4 separate regions of the Homo sapiens genome follow, and all the other regions are linked to region 4. Evidence: fine-mapped expression QTL. A gene starts in region 4. Each other region holds a variant in brackets. All regions are shown on one strand. Distances are between the middles of the regions.

Evidence for each region. PIP is the estimated chance that this variant, and not a neighbour inherited with it, causes the effect.
Region 1: its variant is the best candidate, but not a certain one, in a credible set for the expression of HIF1A in whole blood (INTERVAL, PIP 0.54).
Region 2: its variant is the best candidate, but not a certain one, in a credible set for the expression of HIF1A in whole blood (INTERVAL, PIP 0.83).
Region 3: its variant is the best candidate, but not a certain one, in a credible set for the expression of HIF1A in whole blood (TOPMed, PIP 0.87).

What each region holds. Positions count from the first base shown.
Region 1 is chr14:61,489,559-61,494,709 of GRCh38, reverse strand. The region is part of intron 10 of PRKCH (protein kinase C eta); the gene reads right to left. Among named protein-coding and RNA genes, the nearest start is that of PRKCH-AS2, 53 kb to the left of the region's middle. The variant G/A (reference allele first, on the strand shown) is at 2,046.
Region 2 is chr14:61,670,488-61,675,638 of GRCh38, reverse strand. No RefSeq gene overlaps it. Among named protein-coding and RNA genes, the nearest start is that of HIF1A, 22 kb to the left of the region's middle. RefSeq lists an enhancer at 4,163-4,242. The variant C/G (reference allele first, on the strand shown) is at 2,780.
Region 3 is chr14:61,498,377-61,503,527 of GRCh38, reverse strand. The region is part of intron 10 of PRKCH (protein kinase C eta); the gene reads right to left. Among named protein-coding and RNA genes, the nearest start is that of PRKCH-AS2, 45 kb to the left of the region's middle. The variant G/A (reference allele first, on the strand shown) is at 2,128.
Region 4 is chr14:61,692,960-61,698,110 of GRCh38, reverse strand. It overlaps HIF1A (hypoxia inducible factor 1 subunit alpha), which reads right to left and starts at 2,598. Exons shown (of 15, transcript NM_001530.4): 1 at 2,272-2,598. The coding sequence starts at 2,306. HIF1A-AS1 (HIF1A antisense RNA 1) reads left to right here and starts at 2,288. Exons shown (of 2, transcript NR_047116.1): 1 at 2,288-2,404. RefSeq lists silencers at 2,140-2,239, 2,540-2,839 and an enhancer at 2,910-3,279.

The DNA of each region.
Region 1 (5,151 bases), 200 kb after region 4:
ACCAAGAAAACCCAAATCAGGTGACAGCACATATGCAAAGATAACCTCTTATATTGACACGGCATGTTCCAAAAAGCATTCGCATTTCCACTTCCATCTGATTTGAGTTTTACAAGGACCCTGCTGGGAAGCTGTGTCAATGGCACCTCCACTGTACAGATGGGCCAAAGGGCTAGGGGCATTCAGCAACCTGCCCACATCCCCAGGACCAGGGCTGGGTCTAGCATGCAGGGCTTCTGAAAACCATGTCCAGCATTCTTTCAGTAGGAAGAATATATGTAGCGTCACACACATACTCTAAAGTAAGTGATCTTTTTCTATACTTTTATGGAATTATATTTTTAATACACTGGCACTTTGGGGATACTTACTCTAAATGATGAACATACCAATTGTTTCTATAACCCTGGAGCCAAATTTAGGCAGATTTCTAATGGAGTCTGGTTCCCCAGGGTTCTGTCCTTGACTCACACTGTTCCATTTAAGAGACTCCTATTGGGTGATCTCATTCAGTCTCGTGGTCTCAACTAATAGCTATGTCCTGATGACTTCCAAATATTTAATTCAGCCCATCCTCTTTACTGAGCTTCAGACTCCTATGCCCCTATCCATGGAGCATCTCCACTGGAGTATACCTCAGGCACCTGTCATACAACCTTTCTAAAACTTCTTCCTCTTTTGCCTAGACTTCTTCCTAGGCACATGATCTCTCCTAGCTAATGGCACTGCCATCCACTCAACCTTCTAGCTAAACACCTGGAAATGATTTCCGGTTTCTTTTTTACCCTGAATCCACCCAAATACTAAGTCCTATCAGCTTTACTTGCTATTATCTCTTATGCCTTTCTCATCAGCCCTACCATCACTGTCTTAGTTCAGGTCCTCATTATCTTGTTACTTGGAACTCTGCAACTGCCTCAAAATGAACCTCTCCCTTGCAACCTGGCTGCTGCTTACCATGGGTATGTCCACACATGCCATGCCCCCCACCCGCACGTAAAAGTAAAATATAAATCCACTCATGTCATAAGACCTGCTGAGAATTCTTCAAAGGTTACCTGCTCCATAAAGCCCAGACTCCCTGGCATGGAATTTGTGTCTGACACTGCAAGTTTTCTATCAAATAATGATTCTTTCCCTTCTTAATAATGGAATGCTGATTTTTAGCTGGAACATGGCCACTTGTAATACTGTATTTCTTGGCTTTCACTGGAGCTAGACTCAGCCATATGATCAAGTTCTGGCCAATTCCATGGTAAGTACTGTGTGGAATTCCAGGAGGCCCCTTAAAGGGAGCTGACTCAGTTTGGAGGAATGCCCTCTAGCCCTTCTTACTACATGGAATTGGAATAGAGAGATGATTCCTAGATCTTCAGCAACCATTTAGACAAGGACGTGACCCTGTCTACAGCAGAACAGAAAGCACAGAAATCTGGGTTGCAAATGACTCCACGGAGCTTCCATGGCGGGGCTGGACTACCTACCTCCAGGCTTTTCATGTGAGAGAGCACTATGTTTCCATCTGGCTTAAGCCACTGTCATTTTTATGTTTCCTGTGATAGGCAATGGAGCAAAGTCCTAAGTGACCCAGAATTCAAACATCTCAAGAACAGTAAGTGCTTAATACTTCATTTCTGCAGCCTCCTCTAGCCTTCCCTCTTCCCATGCCTCCAACTTCAGGCTCCAGTGCTACCAAAGTTCCTGTCATTTTCCACTTTAACTACACATTCACCACACTTCTCTGCTTTGCTCAAACTTGCTCCCCTACCTAAACACCCTCCTTATCTTTGTTCAGCTTTTAACTCTTCACACTCAGCTCAGGCATCACCTCCTCCAGGAAGTTTGCCTGAACATCCATCTTAGGGCAAGTGGCCATTCTGTCTGCTCCCAAGATACCCTGGGAAAACTCCAATTTTGGAACCCAGCTGCCATGACTTATTAATGGCTATCTCTCTCACCCCACAGAAAGCGCCTCAAAGGGCAGACATCTCATCTACTCATCTTGTATCTACACCTCCTAATGCAACATCCGGCACTAGGTGGCA[G/A]CTCAGGAAATATGTTCTGATCTCAACTGGATTTTTCTCACTGCAATGGAGTAAACAGGGTTGAATGCCTCAAAATGTCTTGGTTTGCTCTTCATGCCAGCTGTAAGTTGAAGACTGAAACAAAATTTTCTAGCCATATTTTTGTTTTCCTGGAGATGGAAAGCAAACAGCAGATGAGTCATCCGAAGAGAATATCCACTATGAGAAACAATTTTTGGACGTTTCACACCTGAAGTCCCTCATCTGTAAAAGATAACTTGGCCCTTAGCAACGTTTGAGGTCTCCTCTGGCTCTAATATTTTATAAACCCATTGTTGAGTATAAATGCACAGACCTGGACACAGAGAACTCACTGTGAATAGATGGCTCCTCCAGGGATTGGCAACATGACCGGCCTTACCTAACCTTCAAATAAATTATTTACAAGGAGTGTTTAATAAAATCTTGAAGTCATCAGCTGACTGAACACTGTAGGATAATAAAATGCCAAGTGAAGTAAGATACGCTTCCTAGACTCCAGCCAGGCTGGCCTGCTCTAAAAACCCCTGACCTTGCCACACTCCTTCCTGTTACTGGGCATCTATCTGCGTTTGCTGTTTCTTCTGTCTCAAATGTTCCTTCCTTCCCTCTTTACCGTGACCTCAGCCCAAGAGTCACTTCCTTATAAAAATCTTCCATCTTTCCCTAACTGGATAGAATCACCCTATTCTAGGTTCTCATTCACTGCATTGTATTTCTCCTCTTCATAGCACTAGTCATGGTTGCTACTTTTTATTGGTATAATCATTTGATTGACATCTTTCTCCCTCACTGGATCATACCCTCCACTGGCGAGTATTTTTGTTTTTGCTCATACCATTACATCCATATCCTTGGCAGAAGGGTGACGCTCAACAAATACTTGTTAAAAGATCTCCAGAGGCCATGCAAGGGTGCAGAACAGTGGCTGATGAGTTTCACTACGGGAAAAGGGAAGACCCCATTTGAGGGAAATGCTGAGCTACTCTAAGAAGCTGGAAAGCTCTGAGCTCTCCATCATATCCTTGAAGAAGGATCTTGGAAGTCAGGAATGGTGGTCACTTTCTGGTGAGAGTTGAAGAGCAGTCACTGAATGAGGCCACCATGGCACAGCAAGGCATGACAAGCTAAGTAAGAGAAGAGACAAGCACATGACTAAAAAGCTCAAAGAGCCAGTATCAGTCCCAGGTGAGGGCTCACAGCCAAAGTCTGATGTGAAAGTTACTAATATACTGAGCATTCCCATGGCTGGCATGTACTGAATAAACAAGGACTATACAAACAACAAATGACAATTTGTAGTAGTCTCTGCAGTACGCAAATCAAGAGAGAAGAGACCTACTTCTTGCAGCAGAAGGAATAATGCCAGCAGATGACAAAGGGAAAAGAGAGCTGTTAAATTTTACTTTCATCTTTATCTAAAAAGATTTTCCTCACTAGAATGAGTAGAATGAATATAAATACAGAACTGAATTCCAATAGAGGTGAGGTGACAGTAAGAGCCCAAAACTCCAGGCTCAAATGAAAGACATCTGGGGACTCAAAGTCTGCTGATAAGAAATACTGAGGAGTAAGAGAGGTCCTAGGAGGTGGGAATCAGAGAGAGATTGCCACAGTTTTCCAGAGGGGAAGAACTGCAGGGAGAGAGAGAGAGTGCACAGTAACTCAGGCATGTAAAATCCATCACTGGCCCAAGACACCATTTTTTTTTGTTTGTTTTTGTTTTTTTGAGACAGGGTCTCACTCTGTCACCCAGGTTGGAGTACAGTGGTGCAATTTTGGCTCACTGCAACCTACACCTCCCGTGCTCAAGTGATCCTCCCATCTCAGCCTCCCGAGTAGCTGGGACTACACAGGTGTGCACTACACCATGCCCACCTAATTTTTGTATTTTTTATAGAGACAGGGTCTCCTTATGTTGCCTACGCTGGTCTTGAACCCCTAGACTCAACAGATCTGCCCACCTTGGCCTCACAAAATGCTGGGATTACAGGCATAGGCCACTGTGCCTGGCCCCAACACACAAATTCATTTGGAAACGGATCACTTGTGAATTCTTAGACCAGGAAGTGGTGCTCACAGAGGAGACCACTTGCCAAGCAAGGCTATGCCCAGCTGAGTTATCTGGAGTCAGCGAGGCACCTGTGGACCCTCATGATTCTTGAGAAACAAGAGCTAGATGATGTTGGTGATCGGTATATTCACACAGATCCCCCAACTATGTTCAGAGACTAGCTTAACAGGGCTTAATCTTGCGAGTGAGATTGCTACTCTTCCCAAATTCTGAATTTTTAAAAGAGTCAAATTAAGTAGACATTTTTCTCTCAATCTGAGGAGAAATCAGCAGCTCAAAGTTGAAAAGTTCATGTGCCACGTAATCATGGGAGTAAAAGGCGGCATGTCAGAGTTGGCAGTGAGCCTCTGTGGGGCAAAAGCTTCCTCTGTGGGCCACATCTGCAAAATGGGATGGCGAAATACCACGGGAAGCATTTGGAGCTTTCAGGGTAAACACTAATTACCGTGCACCCAGCATGCCAACAGCTGCATAAGGCACAAAGCAGTCAGACTCATGAGTCGAAAAGCATGTGTTGGAAAGTGCTGTGTGCCCAGGGGTAACATGGTGAGGAGGAAGTGAAATTTAAACTGTGCCCTTCTATAAACTATTCCTCACCCAACATATTTCAGATACAGTATTCCACACTTTGTCAAAAACAGCCAATCAAATGTGTGCTGGCTGGCTTCAGGAGTTTGGGGTTGAAATGTCAATGACAGCTGAGTTTCCCTTTAATACAGTTGATGAAACATGCTGAAAGATGTCTGGTCAATGGGATGCATGCCCCTTTGTTTCCCTTACTTTTCTGTAGGGCTTGACTCCGGAAAAAAGTCAACACCATGAGTAAATTATTCATGAGCACTGTCTGGCCTTCCAATCGGCCAAGAAGCCCAGGACAAAAGAATGAATAGTCTTCTTTTTTTCCCCTTGGGAGAACTGACTTGATGACTGCCTCCTTCCCAGCCTACTCTTCTTGGTTTCTGGGCCATGGCAGGTTCCAGACCCTCCAACCAAAGGCAGAGAGGCAGGCCCTTC
Region 2 (5,151 bases), 22 kb after region 4:
AGCTTCAGAGGCTGGACACCATCACACTAACCTTTTTAAGTTGTCCAGAAAACATGGGGGTTTCCCAAACAAACTCCTGGATAAGCTACTCTTAGATGGGGCAAACTTGTAAGAAACAAGTGGAATTGTGAGGTGTGGTGGCAGGCTTTGGTGAATTCTGTGGTGCTCCACAGAATCTCTTCAGGGTTGGCTCATCTAACCCCAGCTGCTGGGAATATTAACTGATAGCTTGCAGCTGTGTCTCTCTCTGCCCTTTGCCGTAGAAAACGACCATGCCAAACTCTATCTCCACTGCGATGGGGTGACCTGCAAACAAAGCCTAGCTCATGTGCAGGTACAAACACATAGCCAGATTACCTCAATCTGAGACAACTCAGAAGGGCCATCTCCATTCCAGAGCTGCCTGCCGGATTGGCTAAAGTCTCAGTTGCAAATGCACCGGGGACTGGCTTCTCCCTCTGCCCAATATTGTCTTCCTTTCCTCTTTGCAAATATATCTCCTTAGAGATCTCTCCAATAAATCTTTGGCATGCAACTTTGGGTTTCAAGTATGTTTCCAGGAAAGCCAATTGCAGAAACTACACTAGAAAATAATTAAAAAATTCCCCAACAAACCAACCGTAGTAACCTGGTTACCACCAGCTGCAACCAGGTGGTTAAAGTGGCAAACTTTTATGTTTATTACAGCAGTATTTACAATAGCAAAGACTTGGAACCAACAGAAATGCCCATCAATGATAGACTGGATAAAGAAAATGTGACCTATATACTCCATGGAATACTGTGCAGCCATAAAAAAGAATGAGTTCATGTCCTTTGCAGGGACATGGATGAAGCTGGAAACCATTATCCTCAGCAAACTAACACAAGAACAGAAAACCAAACACGCATGTTCTTACTCGTAAGTGGGAATTGAACAATGAGAACACATGAACACAGGGAGGGGAACATCACAGACTGGGGCCCGTCGGAAGACGGGGGGAAAGGAACGGGAGAGCATTAGGACAAATACCTAATATATGTGGGGCTTAAAACCTAGATGACGGGTTGATAAGTGCAGCAAACCACCATGGCACGTGTATACCTATGTAACAAACCTACAAGTTCTGCACATATATCCCAGAACTTAAAGTAAAATAAAAATTTAAAAATGGCAAACTTTGCATATGACATTATTATTGTTAACTTCAGGTAAAATAAATTTTTGTTGTTGTTGTTATTGTTTTATTTGAGATGGAGTCTCACAATGTCACCCAGGCAGGAGTGCAGCGGTGTGATCTCTGCTCACTGCAACTTCCACCTTCTGGGTTCAAGCAATTCTCTTGCCTCAGCCTCCTGAGTAGTTGAGATTACAGAAGCGCAACACCACGCCCGGCTAATTTTTTTTTTTGTCTTTTTAGTAGAGATGGGGTTTCACTGTGTTGGCCAGGCTGGTCTTGAACTCCTGACCTGGTGATCCGCCTGCCTCAGCCTCCCAAAGTGTTGGGATTACAGGCATGAGCCCCCGCACCTGGCCAATAAATGTTTACTGATTCAATCATGTCTTAATAAGTCTCTTTTGTTTTTAAAAAATGTGGTTTGCCTGAACAAGCACAACAAATATTTATAGTACAGTAGCAGAGATTTGCAGAAAAGTGTAAGTATTTATCACTAAGTAGAAAGTTGATGGAATTTTAGGGGAAAATAGGGTGAGGAGGTGGAGGTGAAAGGGCAGAAATTATCTGTTCTTTCTTCTGTTTATTTCATTTATTTTGTTTTAAAAATAAAAGCTTTGGTCGCTTATGGCTGAAAGTATTCGTTGTGTAAGTCCTGTTAAAAAAAAAGAGAGAGAGGATCTCCCTAGACTTATAGTAGTCTTAAAACAATGTTGTCATTAAACACTTTTGCTAATTTTTAGATTTAAGGCTTATAGGTTCATTATTCCTTCTCATAGAATGAGCTTTTCAACTTTCTACCTCACAATTATTCGTACAATATAATTTATAGAAGAGACTGACCTAAACCCAATCTGACTTAAATTATATTCTGTGGTATTTTGGAGGGAGATTACTGAAAGTCACATCGATGGATTCTTAGCCCAGGGAAACTGTATGGCGTCCTAAGTGGAAGCTGTGTTAATTCAGGAAATTCTTTGAATACTTCTTAAGAAAACATCCTCAAAAACACTGCTCTGAGACAAGAGCCTCCAGCACAACGCAAAGGTGCCCTAAAGGCCCCATCACACAGTAATCACAAGAATTGATAAGTGCTTTGGTTTGCAGATGAGAATTTTTAGGCATAGGAAGGTGTGACATAATAAAAATATATATATATTCGGTCTCTGCTTTTGTTCCTGGCACAGAGGTCCTGAAACCCTTGTAATTTCATGAGCCATTGGGGTGCTACATGCATCTTTTGTTCTAATATTTGGTCATTGACCCCGGTTCCTGACACAGAACTTCTAATCTCTTGGAATTCCTGGGTCATAGGAGCATCTTTTGCTCTAACAAGGTGGCACTCGGCAGGCTCCTGGGTGGGGACTGGCCACCAGAAAGACCAAGCCATGATTTGAAACTTGGAACTTTCAGCCCCACCTTCCATCTTTTTGGAAGGAAACAGGGGCTGGAGATTGAGTTAATAATTAATCACGCTTATGTGATGAAGCCTCCGTAAAAACTACGGGCCAGGTGCAGTGGCTTGTGCCTGCAATCCCAGCACTGTGGGAGGCTAAGGTGGGCAGATCCCTTAAGCCCGGGAGTTTGAGACCAGGTCTAGCTAAAAATACGAAAATTAGCTAGGC[C/G]TGGTGGTGCACGCCTGTAGTCCTTGCTACCTGGGAGGCTGAGGTGGAAGGATCACTTGGTCCAGGAGGTTGAGGCTACAGTGAGCCAAGATCACACCACTGCACTCCAGCCTGGGTGACAGAGTAAGACCCTATCTCAAAAAAAAAAAAAAAAAAAAAAGAAAAACTGAACTATGGAGTTTGGAGAGCTTCAGGGTTGGTGAACACATCCACATGATGATAGGGTGGCACACCCAAAGTCCACAGGGACAGATGCTCCTGTGCTTGAGACCCTTCTGAACCTTGCCCTACATGTCTTGTCATCTGGCTGTCCATTTGTGTGTGTGCGTGTGTGTGTGTGTGTGTGTGTATTTTTTTTTTTCTTTTTTTTTTCTTTTGAGACAGAGTCTTACTCTGTCGCCCAGGCTGGAGTGCAGTGGCATGATCTCAGCTCACTGCAACCTCCGCCTCCCGGGTTCAAGCGATTCTTGTGCCCCAGCCTCCTGAGTAGCTGGTGTGGGATATGATGAGGTTTCTCTTCAAATAGTCTGATCAATCTTTTATTCTTTAATTCATAGTACCCTCCCCCCCCCCCACTTTTTTTCTCCTTTTTTCCTTTGTTAGATGCCCAGGCACGCCACAGTACCAGGCGTTACCAGTACCAGCTCACATTCCTTTCCTTATTTGGAAAGAGGACTAACTTTCTAGCTCATTACAGACACCCCTTCCCCTTCCTCTCCACTTTCTTTTACGTGCCCACCTTATCTAAAAAAATCAAATGTTTAGCCAACCGGAATTAGTTTAGATTGTACAACCCGACCCCGGCCAATGGGGAAAGGGTACAGGGGCAGGACTGACTTGCGTCAGGAATAAAGGCTCTCGTGCCCCTTTGTTCAGGTGTGCTCTCATGGCAACTGGCCGAGGAGGCACCCCTCTGCGCAGAAGTAAAATTGTTTGGCTAGGAATTCTTTGTTCGAGTGTTCAATTTCCTTAGGATTTGAGCGATATTTCTAACACTGGGGTTACAGGCGTGCACCACCATGCCCGGCTAATTTTTGTATTTTTAGTAGAGACGGAGTTTCGCCATGATGGCCAGGCTGGTCTCATGATGGTCACTCCTGGCCTCAAGTGATCTGCCAGCCTCAGCCTCCCAAAGTGCTGGGATTACAGGCCTGGCAACTGCACCCGGCCTCCATTTGTATATTTCAAAACATCCTTTGAAATAATAGGCAGTAGTAAGTAAACTGTTTTCCTGGGTTCTGTTAGCCACTACTGCCAATTATTGAACCTGAGGAGGAAGTCAAAGGAACCTCCAATTTTTAGCCAAGTTGGACAGAAGCTGTGGGCAATCTGGAGACCTCTACTTGTGATTGGCATCTGAAGTGGGGGGCAGTCTTATGAGACTGAGCCCTTAACCTATGGGATCTGACACTATTTCCAGGTAAGTAGTGTCAGAATTGAGTTAAATTGAGTTAAATTCTCTGACACCAGCTGGTGTCAGAGAATTGGCTGGTGTGGGGAAAACCCCACACATTTTGGTCACAGAAGTGTTCTGTAAAAGTGTGAGTATAGAGACGAAAAACTGTTTTCATTTTCCCTTACATGTGGTGTCAGAAATAGAGTTTTGAGAGTACAGTAGAAGAAAACAGTTTTTTTCCTATTGTATAAAAGGATGTCTGTTTCTGGCAAAACGTTGTGAACTCTGTCAGCCGGAAGTTTCTATCAACTAGCACTTCCTCTCACACTTCTTTAAGCAGATTGTACTGTAATTATAATTGATATTTGTAAAAACAATCCACAGGCAATGAAAACATTAAAGAAAGATTAAATTATGCTGCATATAGTCTAGTGTAGTATTAATTACATTTTACCCTACAGTTCTCCAATCCCATGAAAATCGGTAAACTTGCACGGTATATATGGAAATTTTATTACCCGGGTGGTTCCGTCCTCTTTTCTTGCTGTTTGGGTTGTCCCCTTCCCGTTCCTATCAGCAACTGTCCTTTCCAACATTTCATATAGAAACTGGAGGCAGTTGGACAAGAACTCACTTGACTTCCTGCATTCCTCTTGACAAATGTACCTGCATCTGCTCCCATCCTTATCTCTTTCGCTCTAGGAAGAGATGTCTCTCCTGCTGCCAGCAGCTTATCTCTGCTCTCTGCTCTTGTCTCCCTATCTTCAAGGACCCAGAACTATCATTGATCTCCTCTCTCACCTGTATTATCAAAACTCCACCCTGATTCTTTCCCCTTTAGCGTACAAACAGGCTCAGATGGCTCCCATCTTAAAGAGAGGCTTTCGATTGCACTGTCCCCTCTAGGTATCATTTTTTTTTTTTCTTTTTTGGAGACAGTCTCATCCTGTCCTCTAGGCTGGAGTGCAGTGGTGTG
Region 3 (5,151 bases), 190 kb after region 4:
GTCCTATTTCTTAAATGGCAGTTGAACAGATACAACGCTCAAGCTCTGTTGAGCGTGGCTTAGTATTTGCATAGGCAGAAACAGACAAAGACTGCACAGATTCTGCCAGTCTGTGGGCACCTTCCCGGCATATGTGGCAGACCTCAGTTAACTTTTCTCACTTATTTCTGTTTGGTTGTTTTTTAACCTTCTGAATTACTCAACCAGATTCTTACAGGAAAAAAAAAAAAAAAACCACTAACACACATACAAATCAGTCACAGGGAAACTCAGTTACGGCCTCTGACGGGTTTGAACCTGTCTATTTGCAAATGAGAAAACAAAATTTCAGTGTTCTTTAGGCCAAAATAGTATCTACCCTGCTCCTTGGTGCAGCAATAAAATGGACAGCCCCACAGTAATCAGATTTTGGGTTTGCTTTTGTCAAAATTTTCCTCCTCAGTTTTGTAAGTTGATTTCACCGCCACAGTATATTTTTCTCAATTCCACCTTCTGTGTAGGAGTCAAAAAAAAAAAAAAAAAAAAAGCCTGCTTCCCTTCCTCTCTTACATTCATTCCTTTCCTTCAAGAACCAACCCAAGAGCCACACATCCCCCAGGAAGGGCTCGAAAGGGTGAATTCCATGACTCAGTGTCACCTGCCTTCCTCTGCTGCTCGGCCCCATTTCTTTGTCAAAGGAGTGTTAAAATCCTCACTCGGTGAACTTGGGAAAGGCAAGCTTCTAGCTGCTTGGATTAAAGACTGAATACCCCCTCTTGCTTCATTTGCAAGATTTGGGGCTGCTCCCATCTGTTCTTAGAGGGCAGGAGCTCATTTTTAATTTTTTCTCTCTTGACATTATTTGGGACAGCGCCCATAGAGAAAGGTGTTTGAGAACTCCCTGGTGAATAAGCAGTCCACTCTGTACAACAGAAGGCACTCTATAACCACGGTAGAAGTATGTGCTGCTACTCTTTAATCCAGTTATAAATAATGACTGGTGCAACTGCTCTACCTGGAGCAGTAGTGCTGGAAAGAAATCTTTCTTTGTAGCTTGTAACTGCAATAAACGTTTATAAGCCTGTTGCCTGATCTGAAAAAACCAGCACTTTCTCCAACAAGAGATAGCAGAATTATTTCCAGGACTTGAACTGTCACCCATAGACCCTTCTGATAAAAGAAAAGATTGAATGGGCATGGTGGCTCATGTCTGTAATCCCAGCACTTTGGAAGGCTGGGGTGTGCGGATCACGAGGTCAGGAGTTTGCGACCAGCCTGGCCAACATAGTGACACCCGTCTCTACTAAAAATACAAAAATTAGCCGGGTGTGGTGGCATGTGCTATAGTCCCAGCTACTCAAGAGGCTGAGGTAGGAGAATCACTTGAACCTGGGAGGTGGAGGTTGCAGTGAGTGAAGACCATGCCATTGCACTCCTGCCTGAGTGAGAGTGAGACTCCATCTCGGAAAAAAAAAAAAAAAAAGAAAAGAAAAGAAAAGAAAAGAAAAGATTGCCTACCTACTACCTTTCTTTAAGGATTTAGATTTCATCTCTCTAAAGACTTAGGAAAAAATCTCTGTTCTTCAGGTAGATAATATACCACCATTTGTTTTTCAACAGGAGACATTCAAATGCAGAGCTTGCATATGCATAGACCATTTCTGGAAGGACATATAAGGACATGTCTTGAGGAAGAGGAATTGAGAGACTGGGGACAAGGGTATGAAGAGGATTTAGCATTCACTGTAATCATTTTAGAACAGCTAAAAGTGTCCTTTTTATGTATATGCATTAATTTACATTTTAAAATTAAATTAAAGTGACACTGCTCTTTAGTCAATAAATGATACTGTGTTTCCACCCATCTTCTCATCACTTACTCCCCACCATGAATTCCTGCAGACAAATGTTGGCTCAGTTGCTAGAAATAAAACAGAAATGAAGACAAGAAAAAAGAAATATTGCCATGCCCTGTGCCAGAAATTGAGGGATAACAAATGAAATGAACAAAAAAGAGCTCAAGATGCAAGCCCTTATGTAGCCATGACAAATGAGGAAACGTACGAGACTCTTGGTGTAGCTTTCGCTACTGCTTTTTTTTTTAATGGGATTAAAATGAGCACACATCTCTCTTTTTTTCATTTATTT[G/A]TCTATCAGGGACAAACCATCCAGGTCAATATATGTAGATCTAATGTATTCTTTCTTTTAATTGTTGCATAATATTCCACAGTACGGGTATAACCATAATTTATTCAACAATTTCCTTATGGAATCTGTCTTTCAAGTAAATTCATTGTTTAATTTCCTTCCCTGGATCACTTTTCTTCTTAACAACTGATAATGTATATGGAGGATTTGCTGATGTCAGACACTGGAATAAGCAAGCCACATGAATTAATTTTCACTGTAACTCCATGGAATGGATAGTACTGTTATCCTCATGTAGATTAAGAAACGGAGGCTTAGAGAATTAAAGAGTTGGTACAATATCACAGAATTACAGTACATTGTGGGGGTAAGTTTTAAATCTAAGTTTGACTTCAAAGCCTCGTTCTTAACTGTAAGCCAATACTGTCTCATTTTCATGCTGTTCCATGCAATCAACCTGAGTCTGTGGCCAGTCTTAAACATTATCCTGGTATTTCCAACTTTGAGATGGACCATTTGAAGGAGTTCCATAGGTACCTCTATTTTGACATACCCAAAGGTGATTTTCTTGTCTCCCCCATCCCACCCCCGTGCTCAGCCCATGTTTCATCTTTGGTAATTCACCCTTGAGCAAGTCACAGATTGATTTGAGAGGAAAATATCCACCTTTGCAGAGTGGGCTGTGCACAGAGATCCTCAGTTCTGGGATTTATGACTACCTTCTCTATTTTCATGTGCACATACAGGCTGAAGCTATACTCTCAAATGGATGCAGGAATTAAATTCCTGAGATCCTTACAACAGGAAAATTTAAATATCCTTTTTTGAGATCACCACACCAATTAACTTTCCACCGTGCTTGCTACTCTATAGTCAGCATCAACAATATCCAGTTAAAGACCAAGGATGGGCATGGTGGTTCAAGCTGTAATTCCAGCACTTTAGGAGGCCACAGTGGGAGGGTTGCTTGAGCCCAGGAGTTTGAGACCAGCCTGGGCAACATAGCGAGACCCCATCTCTAAAAATATTACAAAAATTAGCTGGGTGTGCTGGTACACACTTGTAGTCCCAGATACTTGGGAGGCTGAGGTGGGAGGATGGTTTGAGCCCAGGAGCTCTAGGCTGCAGTGAGCTGCACCGCTGCACTCCAGCCTGGGCAACAGAGGGAGACCGTGTCTCAAAAAAAAAGACCAAGTCTTACCCAAAAGAAGTAACATGAGCTATAATAACATAACTCAGTTCAGTTAGCCAACTGCTAGTTCAGATAGTTCTGATTTCGTAAGAGAAGAACGTGACAAGTCAACCGGATATTGATCCAAGTATCTAGAATGCCTAATAACATGGATGGTTTATGGATTACTGAGAAATCAGTAATCCTGAAGAAACAGCCAGAACGAGCGACTATCAGGCTAATAGTATTTCCTTTGTTAACAGGTAAACTAGATTGGGAGACCCAGACTGCCTTCACATATCTCCACAGCTTTCTTGTAAGAGAGCTGTATTTTTTTTTTTAAGTCTACCCCTTATAGGTGGTCCAGAACCAGTGAACTGAAGCTACTGGGAAACAATGTTTGAGTCAACAGAAAGGCGAAATTTCCAAAAGCCGTACATCCCTGAAAGTGGAGGAAGTATAAGTTCCTCTTTGCTTATAGGTGTTTAAGTACGGAAAAAAATGACTGCTCGGCAGATGTTGGATATTCATGCTTTGAAAGAAGAAGGGTATATAACTTTGAACTCCATTCCAGCTTTGAGATTCTAGAATTTTGTCAGCGGAACACAGTAAATTTTGACGCAAATGCCAAGAACAGGGTAGAGCAGCAATTCTGTACGTGAAAGCACAGGCTTACATGGCTACTCTGGAGGCCAGAGGAGCAGTGAAAAGGGAGGAGCAAGATGTGAGGGGCCAGGCAGTCAAAGCGCCACCTTCCCATTGCTGCACCAGCCACACACCTAGCAAACCAGACACCCCCAGGACACTGTTCTCCAGGGTGTGGGGTAGTTTGCCTGTTAGGTTTCACTAACTTCTCTTTGCAACTGAACTGAGAAATTCATCATGTGTGAGCATTTTCACCAAAAAGCAACAGAGCACTTGTACCACTTCACATTTCTACTTACAAAGTTTACAGAAAAGTACAATTTGACATTTGCAAGACAAAGGAAAAAATTCCCCTTTCAGGGACATGCTGCAAACTATTTATCAAAAGGTACACTCTAAAACCACAGTGTACTCAGCTTTTTTTCCTGCCAGGCTTAAGTACTGGGATCTAGGAGAAGGATTTGGTCTCAACACACCTCAAAATAGAGCTCCAAGCCTAACATGCATGGCTTAATGAGCCAAACGCATGACAACGCCTCGGTCTAATCCTTGGTTATTCTCTCGTGCCTGTCTACTGTGTGTTCCACTGTAGCAGGAGCTGTTTTCCTTAGGGCTGAAATCATTTCCGGGTAGATTTGGCACTATCAAACCAAGTAGCTGCAAAACATGTTGCTTAATGTAACTGAAAACCCCAAACACGTGTATGAATGAATGGCTGTAATGGACTGAATGTTTTGTGTCCTGCCAGAATTCATATATTGAAGCCCTAAGCTCTAATGTGATAGCATTTGGAGGTAGGGCCTTTGGGAGATAATTGGGGCTAGGTGAGGCCACAAAGGTGAGGTCTCATGATGGAATTTGTGACCTTATAACAAGAGACACCAGAAAGCCTGTGCTCTCTCCATCCCCTCACCGCATGAGAACACAGCAAGATGGCAGCCACCTTAAAGCCAGGAAGAGAGCCCTCATGAGGAACCAAATTGGCCAGCACCCAGATCTTGGAATTCCCAGTCTCCAGAGCTGTGAGAAATACATTTCTGTTCAAGGAATCCAGTCTGTGGTATTTATTATGGCAGCAGACTAAGCAGTACTGAGCAGACTAAGACAATGGCTTTGTGACTTCTGTAGAACTGGGTTTCACAGACAAGGAGTGGTCACGGCGTGAGGCTGGGGCTTGACAGAACTTAACTGATAAAACAGCAGGTTAC
Region 4 (5,151 bases):
GAGTCTGGCCTGAAGCCTGAAACAGAATCATTACTCTCTTGACATTCCCTTAAAAATCTAAAAATCAAAATGCACGTGCTATTAAATAAGTTCAGCCCCTATAACTAGGAACAACATGAAATGTCCTGCGTTAAATCTACAGTATCATAACCATACCCATTTTCTATTCTGATTTCTTCCAATTCTTCAGGTTTTGAGTTTCCTAGACCTTCTTTTAAAAAGACAAATTTGTTTTCCAAACTCCGACATTGGGAGCTCATTTAAAATGAAAAAAAAAATTGCTTGAAGAAAATCTCCGTCCCTCAACCTCTCAGTTATCTTTCAAAAAACTGTAAATTAGTTAGAAAAGGTCATCTATTATAAACAGCATCTAAAAGTGCTGAGTAACCACCACTTATTAAGTGTTTAACTTAATTTTTCAGTTATATCAAGAACTTCTATACTAAGAAATATGAATCCATCCAATCCAAGGTTGCCAAGTTTTCAAATGAGAAAATTTTGAAAGTAACAGATGGGCTGAGGAAAATCTAAGAGCTTATTTAGAATTGGGGCTGATGAACAGTAGCTAATTTATTAATTCGTTTCAAAACTGCTTCTGATATTCTGAACGGATGAATGGCAAAACAATGAGTTCGATACTGTATATAAAAAAAGTGGTACATAATTTAATGCATTGTATTAAGTATGATTCAATATATAATAAGGATAGAAAACTGGCACTACACAGAGGTAATCTGCCTTAGGTTTACAATATAGCAGCTTTATCATTTCATCAAAAGCACTGTAATCACCTCCGCAAAATAAACTGCAATTAATTCCTGGTAACTCTTGGAATTAATCTAGACCTGTTTGCTCACTTTTTGAATTTTATAAGTGACCTTCTCTGCTGTATACAAACTAAGAATTTAATATTCTATTGAAGAAGGACCAGGAGAAGGGATCTACAAAACAGCAGGAATATAAACAAGTTTATCTTCTGCTGATACTGATTAGGGAAATTAATCTCTCTGCCAGAAGAGTGGAAGGATTTAACAGCAAAGCCAGTCTACTAACCAAAACTCTTACTCTAAATCTTCAATTCCTTAAGTGATTTCCTTAAAAGTTAAAATGCCAAAGTGGGCAAAATTGTGTGTGTGTTGGGGGATGGGGGAGTCCGCTCTTAACACCACTGGTCCAACTCACAATTCTTAATCTCTAATGTACCCCTTAGACTCAAACTTCAAGGTGATTTATAAAACTTGCATTAAGTTCTAACCGAGTGATTACTTACTTTAGATATATGTTGACGGTTTTCCTTTAATATACTTCAATTTCAGGAAAATGAGACAGAGTTCGAAAATTTTTGCAACATTTTAGTGCCGCATTTCATTCACTCATCATATACTTTTTTCAGTATCATTAAAACTGCCTAAATTTAACCAGCCCCTACATTTTCATTATTTGAAGAATGAATGAGGCATATATTCATTTATAATATCTGCGTTCTCGTGACAGGTGATATGAACTCAAGTATCCAATTCTGAAGTTCTCTTTAAAATGTTGCCATTTCCCTAAATTCCCATTACTCTGACTCTCAGTCTAGGCAAGTTTTTCAAGGCGATTAAAACGAAACAAAACCTGCACGTGCAAACTAAAAAGTTCGCATCTTAAGGCCATCGCGGCAAATCCCTAATGCACAAAGGCAAAGACACCCGCGACGGCTGGACAACTACAGGACAAGATCGCATCCGACCACGCGAGTCCCTCAGTCGGGAACTCAAGGCCCCAAGTCCACTGGAAAGCCAGGACCAGCGTGCAGGGTCCGCCCCAGGGCCGAGTTTTCAATGGAACTGGAGAGGATGGGGGCGGGAAGGAGCGGAAGCTCCGGGTGCAAACCGCGGCTACCGAGCTGCAGCTCATTTCTCTTCCCGGGGTTTTCAGGCTGGGTAAAGTCCCCTCCGGATGGGGCCACAGAGCAGGCTGGGTTTTTGAGGCGGGTAGGTGGGCGGCGCGAGGCCCCCACGGCCGGCGGGGAGGGCAAGCAGGGCTCAGACCCCGGCCCCTGAAAGCACTTTCGAGGCGTCTCCCACCCCCCACGACAAGATGGCGACGTGGACAGCGGGGGAGCCCGGCCGGCGAGGTTGGGGGAAGAGAGGGGAGGGGAGCAGCAGCAGAAACAAAAAGGCTGCCCCCCCCAATCCCATTAACGCCGAGGCCGGCCCAGGAGCCCAGGGCGGGCAGGCGGGCGGGGTCGCCGGGGGAGAAGGCGGCGGGCCGAGGGAATGGGCTTACTTTTTCTTGTCGTTCGCGCCGCCGGCGCCCTCCATGGTGAATCGGTCCCCGCGATGTCTTCACGGCGGGCGGCCCCCAGGCTCGCTCCGGCCTAAGCGCTGGCTCCCTCCACACGCGGAGAAGAGAAGGAAAGGCAAGTCCAGAGGTGGGGGTGCGAGGCGGGAAACCCCTCGTGAGACTAGAGAGAAGCGGGCGGCAATCGCCGGGGTCCGGGCCCGGCTCCGAGCCTCTCCTCAGGTGGCTTGTCAGGGCCCAGCCCGACACACTGGCCGAAGCGACGAAGAGGGTGATCCTCCTGTCCCCTCAGACGAGGCAGCACTGTGCACTGAGGAGCTGAGGCAGCGTCAGGGGGCGGGCAAGGGCGGAGGCGCGCTCGGGCGCGCGGGGAGGGGAGAGGGGGCGGGAGCGCGCCCGCTCGCCTGCCCAGGCCGGCGCGCGCTCCCGCAAGCCCGCCTCACCTGAGGTGGAGGCGGGTTCCTCGAGATCCAATGGCGAGCGACGCAGGCGGCAAGTCCCCACCCCAGCCCACGCCGCTCTCAGCCAATCAGGAGGCGGTCAGCTGAGGCACAGCTGGGACGGGCTGCGACGCTCACGTGCTCGTCTGTGTTTAGCGGCGGAGGAAAGAGAAAGGAGATGGGGGTGCGGCTCAGCCCGAGTCTGGGGACTCTGCGCCTTCTCCGAAGGAAGGCGGTGCCCGGCTTTGGGAGGCGCTGCTGAGAAGGGATTTCGGTTGCCTGGTCCCAAACATGCATCATATTTTCCTACTCTTGGTGCAGTAATGTAATGCTCCTGCTCTCTTTCTCCTCGGCCTCAGTGCTGGGCACGATTGCCGCCCAACTCTGCTGGGCTCTCTGTTCAAAAAAGCAGACTTCGCCTCGTGGCAGCAAGCCCTTCCTTTGGTCTCGTTGCTCAGATGTGTTACAACGGGGTCTTTCCTTACCAGATTACCTAACCATGGGTCAATGTCACCCACCGCACTCTTTGCCACGGAGCACAGGGGAACTCACCTTGTCTACTAAGTTTTTCTGTGGCGGAGTTTACTTACTGAATAAATGCAATTAAAAATAAAAATGAACTCCTGTTGCTGTAAACTTCAAGGGAAATAAAGTTGCAGGGAAATCTTAAAATCTGAAACTATGTTAAGCATTTGCAAATAGGTATAAATGACTTTAATAAGCATATAAACCAATTTCAGGGAAAGAGTAGAAAAAATGGCCTTTGGCAACTTTGCAAGCTACTAAACAAAACATAATCACTTTTGTCTTTGGAGGCATAAACTTCAAGCCTGTCAGTCTTCTAAAAGAAAAATATGTTTTGAGCCCAACAAAGTAGCATTGCACATATATCTCCACTTGGCGCTAAATTATTTTACTTCTCACCTTTGCCTTATGAGTTTCTTGTTAAAACCTAGCTTTGGGTTGTAAATATAAATATCTGTAGTGGCTTTCAATTGTATTAGCATGTAAAAACAATGGTCTATATAGAAGCATCAAACTCTGACAAGACAACAACCAATGTATACAGCACCTCTTTTTAACTGGTCAGTAGACCTACAAAGATACGATTAAACATTGACCTTAGCGGACAGGGTGGTTCCAGCTACTCAGAGGTGTGAGGCTGGAGAAGCCTGGGTGTTCCAGCCTAGGGAACGTAGCGAGACTCCGTCTCTTTAGAAAATTTTTGATCTTCACGCTACTTTTGTTTTTTCAGATCTACAACACTAAATGATATGTATTATGTCTTGAAAAGAACCATGGGAAATGCCTGAAGAGAAGAAAGAACTAAAAATAATTACTCATAATTTCTTTTTTAATTGTGGAAAGAATACTGTAAATTAAAAACTTTTTAGTTTAACATTCTCAAGATACTGTGTTAAGAACACTGGCTCCAGAATCAAGCGTGAGCTTGTACACAGGCTTTGAATCTTACTGGCAAGTCGTTTAATCTCTCCATAACTCAGTTTACTTATTTATAAAATGGATATAAAAGTGTCTATACCACAGTATTATGGATGGTTAAATGAGATAATAAATGTATACTTAGAACAATATCTGGTGCATAGTAAGCACTCAGTAAATGTTAGCTCTTAGTATTGTTGGTGGCGTTATTATTATTATCATTATTATTATTCTGAGGCGGAGTCTCGCTCTGGCCCACAGGCTGGAGCGCAGTGGCGCGATTTCGGCTCACTGCAACTCCGCCTCCCAGGTACAAGTGATTCTCCTGCCTCAGCCTCCCAAGTAGCTGGGATTACAGGCACGCACCACCACACTCGGATAATTTTTCTATTTTTAGTAGAGACGAGGTTTCACCATGTTGGCCAGGCTGCTCTCGAACTCCTGACCTCAGGTGGTCCGCTCGCCTCGGGTTCCCAAAGTGCTGGGATTACAGGCATGAGCCACAGTGCCTGGCCTATCATCATTATTATTGCCCTCAAATTTATTCCTCTGTTAACAGTAATTACTCGGGCTTCTCCTACAGTTTAGCCATTTTTAACTATCCAAGAATACCAATTATGTTAATATAAATCCACATATATTCTCTATTTTCAACTTTGGAACTGCCCATCGTGTTCCCACCCTCATTTATGAGGATAGCTGCAGAGATCTTCCATCATTTCCCTTTTCATTATACTTATAGCAATTATCTCTGGCCAGTGATTATAGTATATAATGTTTGTGACATCAAAAGACAAGCATTTTGTAACAGTAAATCTAAGTCATTTAAAATTTTTTTGGATCATTTCAAAAGTTTAAAGCAGAATGATAATTTGATCAGCAAAAAAATTTTTGAATATTCATTAAATATGCCCTTAAGTTAATTTTCCTTTTCAAAAATGTATAAAATATATGTTTATGTATATGTGTATACACAAATATA